Regions from separate parts of the Homo sapiens genome. Here region 1 is linked to region 2. The links come from fine-mapping of genetic effects on gene expression. Tissue or cell type: caudate. Region 2 holds a variant in brackets; the other region holds the start of a gene. All regions are shown on one strand. Distances are between the middles of the regions.

The links. PIP is the estimated chance that this variant, and not a neighbour inherited with it, causes the effect.
Region 1: it holds the start of IL17RE, and the variant in region 2 is the best candidate, but not a certain one, in a credible set for the expression of IL17RE in caudate (GTEx, PIP 0.86).

Annotation. Positions count from the first base shown.
Region 1 is chr3:9,900,481-9,905,484 of GRCh38, forward strand. IL17RE (interleukin 17 receptor E) reads left to right here and starts at 2,368. Exons shown (of 16, transcript NM_153480.2): 1 at 2,368-2,584; 2 at 2,917-2,932; 3 at 3,552-3,671. The coding sequence starts at 2,453. RefSeq lists an enhancer at 2,572-3,241.
Region 2 is chr3:9,595,151-9,600,154 of GRCh38, forward strand. LOC105376949 (a long non-coding RNA gene) reads right to left here. Exons shown (of 3, transcript XR_940586.1): 2 at 4,383-4,476; 3 at 3,271-3,513. Among named protein-coding and RNA genes, the nearest start is that of LHFPL4, 44 kb to the left of the region's middle. The variant C/T (reference allele first, on the strand shown) is at 2,465.

The DNA of each region.
Region 1 (5,004 bases), 310 kb after region 2:
TACTGTTTTGTTTGCAGAGATGGACTTCAAGGCCAAAAGGCATACTGTGTTAGGGTCTGTGTCAGGCAGCCCCTTTTGGGTTCCAAGAGCAGAGGAAGATGAGGCTGTGTGAGGGAAGACCATAGGATGATAGAGAATTGGTACCGGGCACAGTGGCTCATGCCCATAATCCTAGCACTTTGGAAGGTTGAAGCAGGTGGATCACTTGAGGCCAAGAGTTCAAGACCAGCCTGGCCAATGTGGCAAAACCCTGTCTCTACTAAAAATACAAAAATTAGCCAGGCATAGTGGTGCACAGCTGTAATCCCAGCTACTCAGGAGGCTAAGGCACAAGAATCACTTGAACCTAGGAGGCGGAGGTTGCAGTGAGCCAAGAACACACCACTGCACTCCAGCCTGGGCAACAGAGCAAGACTATCTCAAAAAAAAAAAAAAAAAAAAAAAGCCAGGTGCTGTGGTTCATGCCTGTAATCCCAGCACTTTGGGAGGCCAAGCTGGGCTCAGATCACCTTAGGTCAGGAGTCCAGGACCAGCCTGGCCAACATGGTGAAACCCGTCTCTACTAAAAATACAAAAATTAGTCTGGTGTGGTGGCGTGCACCTGTAATCCCAGCTACTCGGGAGGCTGAGGCGGGAGAATCGTTTGAACCTGGGAGGTGGAGATTGCAGTGACCTGAGATTGCACCATTTGCACTCCAGCTTGGGTGACACAGTGAGACTCTGTCTCAAAAAAAAAAAAAAAAAAGAGAGAGTTGAGTTGCGAGGGCCTAGCAAAAGGGGAGCTCCCTGAACTATAGACTTTGACCTTGTCCAAATCATTATCCCTCTGCTTCCTTATCTCTCTATGAAATGAAAACAATAATTAACACTTACCTGTCTCACAGGTAGGGTTAGGAGGATTAAATATAAAAGTGTTTTGTGAAGTGTGAAACAGATAAACTACATAGATGAAATGTATCATGACATTTATTCAATTACACAGCACATACTTCATAATATCTACTGCTAGGCTTGGAGAAACATAAAGAATAAGAGTTTTTATCTTTTCATGAACTCAAAAAGCTAGAGGGTACTTTTAGGATAATGGGTAGGATGCAGCCTTCAGACAATGAACCTAAAGACAGGAATAGAATTGGCCAAAAGCAGGCTGTGGTTAGGCCACTGAAAGGTGGTCTAGATTGAATTGCAGGGGGACAATAACAATCTCAAGATGCCTTGGCTGGGCGCCGTGGCTCACGCTTGTAATCCCAGCACTTTGGGAGGCCAAGGTAGGTGGATCACATAGTCAGGAGTTCGAGACCAGCCTGGCCAATATGGTGAAACCCTGTCTCTACTAAAATACAAAAATTAGCCAGGCATGGGGCAGGTGCCTGTACTCCCAGCTACTCAGGAGGCTGAGGCAAGAGAATCGGTTGAACCCAGCAGGTGGAGGTTGCAGTGAGCAGAGATTGTGCCACGGCACTCCAGCCTGGGTAATAGAGCAAGACTCAGTCTCAAAAAAAAAAAAAAAAAAAAAAAAAAAGATGCCTTGACCTGGTAGGTGTGCCCCAAACTTTCTTTCCAGTGTGTGTGTTACCAAGGTGAGGGCTGAAGCTGCTCAAATGCTCCATGAAGGGGAGGAAGCTGTGGGATGATGGGGAGGGTTCCCACAAAGATGGAGCCTCGTCAGCCTTTCTCCAGCACCGGAAACCACAGGAAACCAGGTCAGTGTGTGGGGCCCGCTCCCTCTGCTCCAGGGCTCAGCTGTGAGCTCTGGGGCTTCCTGAGCAGGGCGTACTGACTAGTGGGTCCTTGAAGCTAGAGGCCCCTTTGGTATGGAGCCCTTTGCCTAGAAGAGCTGGACCTGGCTCATGGGTAGAGAGAACTCGGCTATAGTCCTGAGAGTTAACCAGTTGGGAAGCCAGGGTACATATGGGCTTCATGTGCATCCTAGAGTGCTTTTTTTCTTCCCCACTCTAAATGGTGCCTCAGTCACCTCTGTATCTCCAGCACCCAGTGCTGAGTAGTGCTTAAGAGCTCGGCTAATTCTCTAAGTGAGGGGGTGAAGCGCATGTCTATGGGAGACACAAGTTCCAGAGTGTGCTGATGGGTGGATCAGATCTGCAGTGTGTTTCAGGAGTAGGAGGGGCTAAGAAATGGGTGCGTCCCCCAACCTGATGCTAGCCCCTTTCCTGTTACTTCTCACCCACAGCAGGAGCCCCTTGTCTTTCAGGTGGGGGGCAGTAGGGTTTTTGGGGGCACAAGCTTTCCTCAGTCCCTCCACTTGGAGGGGAAGGAATGTGGCCTGGCTGGCTGGTTGGGATCAAGGAGGAGCTTTCGGGCAGGGCGGGGCCAGGGCAGGCTGGGGCGAGGGCTCCTGCTGGTACTGTGTTCGCTGCTGCACAGCAAGGCCCTGCCACCCACCTTCAGGCCATGCAGCCATGTTCCGGGAGCCCTAATTGCACAGAAGCCCATGGGGAGCTCCAGACTGGCAGCCCTGCTCCTGCCTCTCCTCCTCATAGTCATCGACCTCTCTGACTCTGCTGGGATTGGCTTTCGCCACCTGCCCCACTGGAACACCCGCTGTCCTCTGGCCTCCCACACGGTAAGGTGCTGCTGCCAGGTAGGGACACCTGCCTGGCACAGCCATAAAGCTCCCCACTCCCCTGCCTGCCCTGTGCTACCTCCGCAGTCCCTGTGCTCTGGTGGCAGCTTTGATGTGTCCTCTACCTAGTCTCAAAGGGGTAGCCAAGGTCCTTTGTGCTGAGGGCCTGGACAGGGTGGAGCTGGGAAGATAAGAGCCAGAAGGTATGGGCTATTAGCTATGGGGCTCAGAATTTGCTGATTTGAAGCAAAGACCCCAGGAATGTGCCTTATGGGAGTCTCTCCTAATAATAGCTCTTTCCTTTCTTTTCCCTACTGGGCCCTGTGCCTCAGGATGACAGTTTCACTGGTGAGTCGCATTTCCTGCCCCATTGCTCCTCCCCACGCCCACTATTTTTGCAGATGCCTAGCAAGCCCTCCATTCTAATTTTCAGTTCCCAACCCGGGAAGTAGCACAATATCAAGGAAAAATTTGGAATCATGACAAGCCTGGGTTCACATTGCAGTTCTGCCAGACTCCCGTGTGGCCTCAGACTGTGCACCTAACCCCTCCAACTGACCCTCAGTTTCTGAGGGGTAGTAGCATAGTAGAAATGATTGTACACTAAAGGCAGTGTTGCTTCTGATCTGTAGAGAGGATTAGATGAGAAACATGAGTAAATCTCCAGGTTCTCCATATATGTTGGCTCCTCCCCTTAACTGATCCCTCACTTCTATCAGTAATACAACAATAATCCTTCCTATTTTATGGTATGTTCTACTTCACAAGACATTTTCCCATACACTACAATTTTGATTTTTATAACAGACCCGCTTTATGAATGAGGAATCTGATCCTTAGACAGGTCCTGTAACCCCCAAAGTCATACTTCCAGGATGTGACAGAGCTTGGCCTCAAATCCAGCTTGTTGGAGGTAGGAGGGACCTTCTTAGACCCTATCATTTGCTTTCCCTTCCATCTTTCCCAGGAAGTTCTGCCTATATCCCTTGCCGCACCTGGTGGGCCCTCTTCTCCACAAAGCCTTGGTGTGTGCGAGTCTGGCACTGTTCCCGCTGTTTGTGCCAGCATCTGCTGTCAGGTGGCTCAGGTATGAGAAACAGCCCCTTGGGCCATTCTCAGTGAAGAGAACATTTTGAGGGACCACCTAGGCTGAGCAAGTGGGACTTACTAGAACAGATATTTGTCTTGTTTTAACCTCAACTGGGACTTGGATTATCCTAAAATAGCACGCTATGACTGATATTCACAAATACAATTGTACAATTTTATGAAGGTTTTTTTTCAGCTGAGATTCTTGGAATTAAAAGCTATGGATTTATTGTTATTACCATCTATTTGTAGAGCAGGATCTTCTTTCTTACTCTATATTTTAATTGCTCAGCTCAGTGCCTGGTACATACTAAATGCCCTTACATTGCTTAAGAATTGGCAGTTTCTAGGCCAGGCGCGGTGGCTCACGCCTGTAATCCCAACACTTTGGGAGGCTGAAGCAGCCTGATCACCTGAGGTCAGGAATTCGAGACCAGTCTGGACAACATTGTGAAACCCCTGTCTCCACTAAAAATACAAAAAATTAGCAGGGCCTGGTGGCAGGCACCTGTAATCCCAGCTGCTCAGGAGGCTGAGGCAGGAAAATCACTTGAACCCAGGAGGTGGAGGTTGCAGTGAGCCGACATCATGCCATTGCACTCCAGCCTGGGCGACAAGAGCAAAACTCCATCTCCAAAAAAAGAATTGGCAGTTTCTGGGCCAGGTATGATGGTTCACACCTGTAATCCCAGCACTCTGGGAGGCCAAGGTGGGTGGATCGCTTGAGTCCTGGAGTTTGAGACCAGCCTGGCCAACATGGCCAAACCCCATCTCTACAAAAAAATACAAAAATTAGCTGGATGTGGTAGTGCACACCTGAAGTCCCAGCTACTTGGGAAGCTGAGGTGGGAGGATCACCTGAATTCAGGAGGTGGAGGTTGCAGTGAGTTAAGATAGCGCCACTGCACTCCAGCCTGGATGACAGTGTGAGACCCTGTCTCAAAAAAAAAAAAAAAAAAAAAAAAAGAATAGGCAGTGTTTAATTTTTCTAATTGTTTGTTGTTAGAAATAATGCTACAGGGCTGGGCACAGTGGCTTATGCCGGTAATCCCAGTACTTTGGGAGGCTGAGGCGGGCAGATCACCTGAGGTCAGGAGTTTGAGACCAGCCTGGCCAACATGGTGAAACCCCGTCTCTACTAAAAATACAAAAATTAGCCAGGTGTGATGGTGCATGCCTGTAATCCCAGCTACTCAGGAGGCTGAGGTGAGAGGATTGCTTAAGCCCAAGAGTTCAAGACTGCAGTGAGCAGTGATTGTGCCACTGCACTCCAGCCTCCATGACAGAGCAAAATCCTGTCAAGAAAGGAAGGAAGGAAGGAAGGAACGAAG
Region 2 (5,004 bases):
CACCTCAGCCTCTCTAGTAGCTAGGGCCACAGGTGTGCACTATCACACCCAGCTAATTTTCTTTTGTTTTCCTCACTGCAATCTCCACCTCCCAGGTTCAAGCGATTCTCCTGCCTCAGCCTCCTGAGTAGCTGGGACTACAGGTGCATACCACCACATCTGGCTAATTTTTTGTATTTTTAGTAGAGACAGAGTTTCTCTGTGTTGGCCAGGATGGTCTCGATCTCCTGACATTGTGATCTGCCCGCCTTGGCCTCCCAAAGTGCTGGGATTACAGGCGTGAGCCACCGCACCCAGCCTCCAGCTAATTTGAAAAATGTTTTTCTGGAGATGGGGTGTCTCTATGTTACCCAGGCTGGTCTTGAACTCCTGGCCACAAGTGATGCATCTTGGCTCCCAAAGTGCTCAGATTACAGGCATGAGCCACCGCACCTAGACTTCTTCTTCTTTTTCAAAATTGTTTTGACCATTCTAGTTCCTTTTCTTTTCCACGTAATTCTTAGAATCAGCTTGTAGACTACCAAAATATTGCTAGAACTTTAAAACCAATTGCACTGAATGTACAGATCAATTTAAGACACCTTAATAATATTGAGTCTTCTTATCCATGAACATGATATATCTTGTCGTTTGTTTTAGTCTCCTTTGATTTTTCTCATCAGGGTTTTGTAGTTTTCTGTGTAAATCTGCTGCACACATTTTGTTAGATTTATACCTATTTCACATCTTTTGGTGTTATCATAAAGGATACTTTTTTTTTTAAACAAAGTTTCACTCTGTCACCCAGGCTGGAGTGCAATGGCACTGAGACAGCCAGATGGGAAGGGGTCCCCAGAGAAACTTCAACCAGCCTGTGCACTGGGAGGAGTGCACATTGGGATGGAGACACAGAAGTTCCTGCTGTTTGCAGTGGGGAGGAGCCTGGCCCCTCCTTTACCTGGGTGGAACCTGCAATTCAATCCATGAGGCAGGAAGCACATACTAACAGTACTTTCACTCTGCTGAGAGTCCCTGTTTCCCTCTGTTTCCCATTTGGCCCAATAAATCCCATTTTTCTCATTCTTCAAATTGTCTGCAAGCCTAGATTCTCATGGCCATGTGACAAGGACTCCATCTTTAGCTGAACTAAGGAAAAGCCCAGCAACAGCACCATCACAGCTCACTGCAGCCTCAACCTCCTGGGGCTCAAGTGGTCCTCCCAGCTAAGCCTCCAAGTAGCTAGGACTACAGGCATGCACCACCACACCCAGATATTTTTTGTATTTTTTTCTGTAGAGACTGAGTTTTCCCATGTTGCCCAGGCTGGTCTTGAACTCCTAGGGTCAAGCAATCCACCCACCTCAGCCTCCCAAAGTGCCAGGATTACAGGCATGAGCCACTGCAACTGGCAATGGTACTTTACATTTCAATGGTACTTCACATTACAATGGTTTTTTTGTTTGTTTGTTTTTTGTTTTTGTTTTTGTTTTTGAGACAGAGTCTCGCTCTGTTGCCCAGGCTGGAGTGCAGTGGCACACTCCACCTCCCGGGTTCATGCCATTCTCCTGCCTCAGCCTCCCGAATAGCTGGGACTACAGGCGCCCGCCACCATGTCCGGCTAATTTTTTGTATTTTTAGTAGAGATGGGGTTCACCGTGTTAGCCAGGATGGTCTCGATCTCCCGACCTCGTGATCCACCCACCTCGGCCTCCCAAAATGCTGGGATTGGGATTACAGGCGTGAGCCACTGCGCCTGGCCACAATGATTTTTACATTTCTTCGTCTTTTTTTTTTTTTTTTTTTGAGACAGAGTCTTGCTCTGTTGCCCAGGCTGGAGTGCAGTGGCACGATCTCGGCTCACTGCGATCTCTGCTCACTGTGACTTCCACCTCCCAGGTTCAAGTGATTCTCCTGCCTCAGCCTCCCGAGTAGCTGGAACTACAGGCTCACGCCACTATACCCAGCTAATTTTTTTGTATGTTTAGTAGAGACAAGGTTTCACCATGTTGGCCAGGCTGGTCTCGAACTCCCAACCTCATGATCCACCCACCTCGGCCTCCCAAAGTGCTAGGACTACAGGCATGAGCCACCATACCCAGACGGTTTTTAACATTTCAAGTTCCAACTTTCTTTTTCTTTTCTTTTTTTTTTTTTTTTTTTTTTTGAGACAGTCTCACTCTGTTGCCCAGGCTGGAGTGCAGTGGCGTGACCTCAGCTCACTGCAAACTCTGCTTCCCAGGTTCACACCATTCTCCTGCCTCAGCCTCCCTAGTAGCTGGGACTACAGGCGCCCACCACCACGCCCAGCTAATTTTTTTGTATTTTTAGTAGAGACAGGGTTTCACCATGTTAGCCAAGATGGTCTCCATCTCCTGACCTCATGATCTGCCTGTCTTGGCCTCCCAAAGTGCTGGGATTGCAGGCGTGAGCCACCACTCCTTGCCCCAATTTTCACTGTACAGAATTAAAATTGGTTTTTTATTGA[C/T]CACATATCCTGTGACCTTGCTAAGTTGCTTATTACTTATAGTAGGACATTTTTGTAGATTCTTTGAGATTTTCTATATAGACGATTATGTAATCTGTTAGTATAGTTTTATTTCTTCCTTTTCAATCTATATGCTTTTTTATAATCTTAATGTAATGTTCCATTACAATGTTGAATAGGAGTGACAAGGACAGATATCCTTACCTTGTTCTCTTTCTCAGTGGAAAAGCACTGAGTCTCTTACCATTAAATATGATATTAGATGTAGGTATTTTACTGATATCAATTATCAGGTTGAGGATATTCTCTTCTGTTACTAGTATACTGACAGTTTTTATCATAAATGATGTTAGACTTCCTTTTCTTTTCTTTTTCTTTTTTAGACGGAGTCTCGCTCCGTCACCAGGCTGGAGTGCAGTGGCGCAATCTCGGCTCACTGCAACCTCCACCTCCCGGGTTCAAGTGATTCTCCTGCCTCAGCCTCCTGAGTAGCTGGGATTACAGGTGCTCGCCACCATACCTGGCTATTTTTTTTTTGTATTTTTAGTAGAGACGGGGTTTCACCAAGTTGGCCAGTATGGTCTCGATCTCTTGACCTCGTGATCCACCCACCTCAGCCTCCCGAAGTGCTGGGATTACAGGTGTGAGCCACTGCGCCTGACCTAGACTTTCTTTTCAAATGCCTTTCTTGTGGGTGCATTTTTTGAGATCATCATATGGTTTTGTAACAGCCCAAGAGGTTCTTCTTGCCCACTGCCCAGAAAAGCCAATGCACTGAGAACAGCAGGTTTTGCAGCAAAGAACATGTTTAATTGCAAGGCCAGCCAAGCGAGAAGATGAGACAATTCTCAAATCTGCCTCCCAGAGAATGCGGAGGCTAGGGTTTTAAGGATAGTTTGGCAGGCAGGGAGCTAGGGAATGGGAAATACTGATTGGTTTGGTCAGGGATGAAACCACAGGGTTATCAAAACTGTCTCTGTGCCTCTGTCAGTTCCTGGGTGGGGGTCACAAGTCTGGGTGGCATCAGTTGTTCCACCAGAATGCAATGCCTGAAAAATATCACAAATACCAATGTTAGGTTTTACAATAGTGATGTTACCTATAGGGGCAACTAGAGAAATTATAAATCTCGTGACCACTAGCTGTATGAATTCTGAGCAGTAAGCAAATTAGAAAACAATGGCTAGTTATTATTAAACTCTGCATAGGTCGTCGCAGAATTCAGGACCCACCTATAATTCTAATCTTATGGCCTTTCATAAGTTTTACAAAGGCAATGTCAGTACCCAAACAAGGAGAGGGTAATTTGGGAAGGGACTGCTATCATCCTTGCTTTAAGGTTAAATTATTAACTAAATTCCTCCCAGGAGTTCCTGCCCAGGAATTGGCAAGGGCAGTTAGCTTATGAGTTTACAAGGAAGTTGGAGCCTGCTATATTAAATTTCTCTGTGTCTTTTTGGGAAAGGGCTATTACCAATTTTGTTTCAGAGTCAAATCATGAACTGAATTCCTTCCCAAAGTTAGTTTGGCATCCACCCAAGAATGTACAAGGACAGCTTGAAGGTCAGAAGCAAGATGGAGTCAGTTAGATCTGATCTCTTTCACTGCCATAATTTCCTCAGTTATAATTTTTGCAAAGGCGGTTTTGTAACCGCCCAAGGGGTTGACCTGACCTTGCCCGCTGCCTAGACAGAGCAGATTCGTCAAGACAGGGCAATTGCAATAGAGAAAGACTAATTCACTCAGAGCCGGCTGTGTGGGAGACCAGAGTTTTATTATTACTCAAATCAGCCTCTCTGAGCATTTGAGCATTCAGGGAGCAGAATTTTTAAGGATAACTTGGTGGAAGAGGGGAAGCCAATCAGGAGTGCTGATTGGTCAGAGATGAAATCATAGGGAGTAGAAGCCGTCTTCTTACGCAGTCAGTTACTGGGTTGGGGAGGAGGGGCACGAGATCAGATGAGCCAGTTCATTGATCTGGGTGGGGCCAGCTGATCCATCATGTGCAGGCTCTGCAAAATCAAGCACTGATCTTAGGAGCAGTTCAGGGAGGGTCAGAATCTTATAACCTCCAGCTGCATGACCCTTAAACCATAATTTCCAATCTTGTGGCTACTGTTAGTCCTACAAAGGCAATATAGTCTCCAGGCGAGAAGGAGGTCTGCTTTGGGAAAAGGCTGTTACCATCTTTGTTTAAACTACAAACTATAAACTTAAGTTTCTCCTGGGCAGGCGCGGTGGCTCACGCCTGTAATCTCAGCACTTTGGGAGGCCGAGGCGGGCGGATCACGAGGTCAGGAGATCCAGACCATGGTGAAATCCCGTCTCTACTAGAAACACAAAAAATTAGCCGGGCTTGGTGGCGGGCGCCTGTAGTCCCAGCTACTCTAGTCTCCTGCCTCGGGAGGCTGAGGCAGGAGAATGGCGTAAACCCGGGAGGCGGAGCTTGCAGTGAGCCGAGATCGCGCCACTGCACTCCAGCCTGGGCGACAGAGCGAGCAACGATCCGTCTCAAAAAAAAAAAAAAAAAAAAGTTTCTC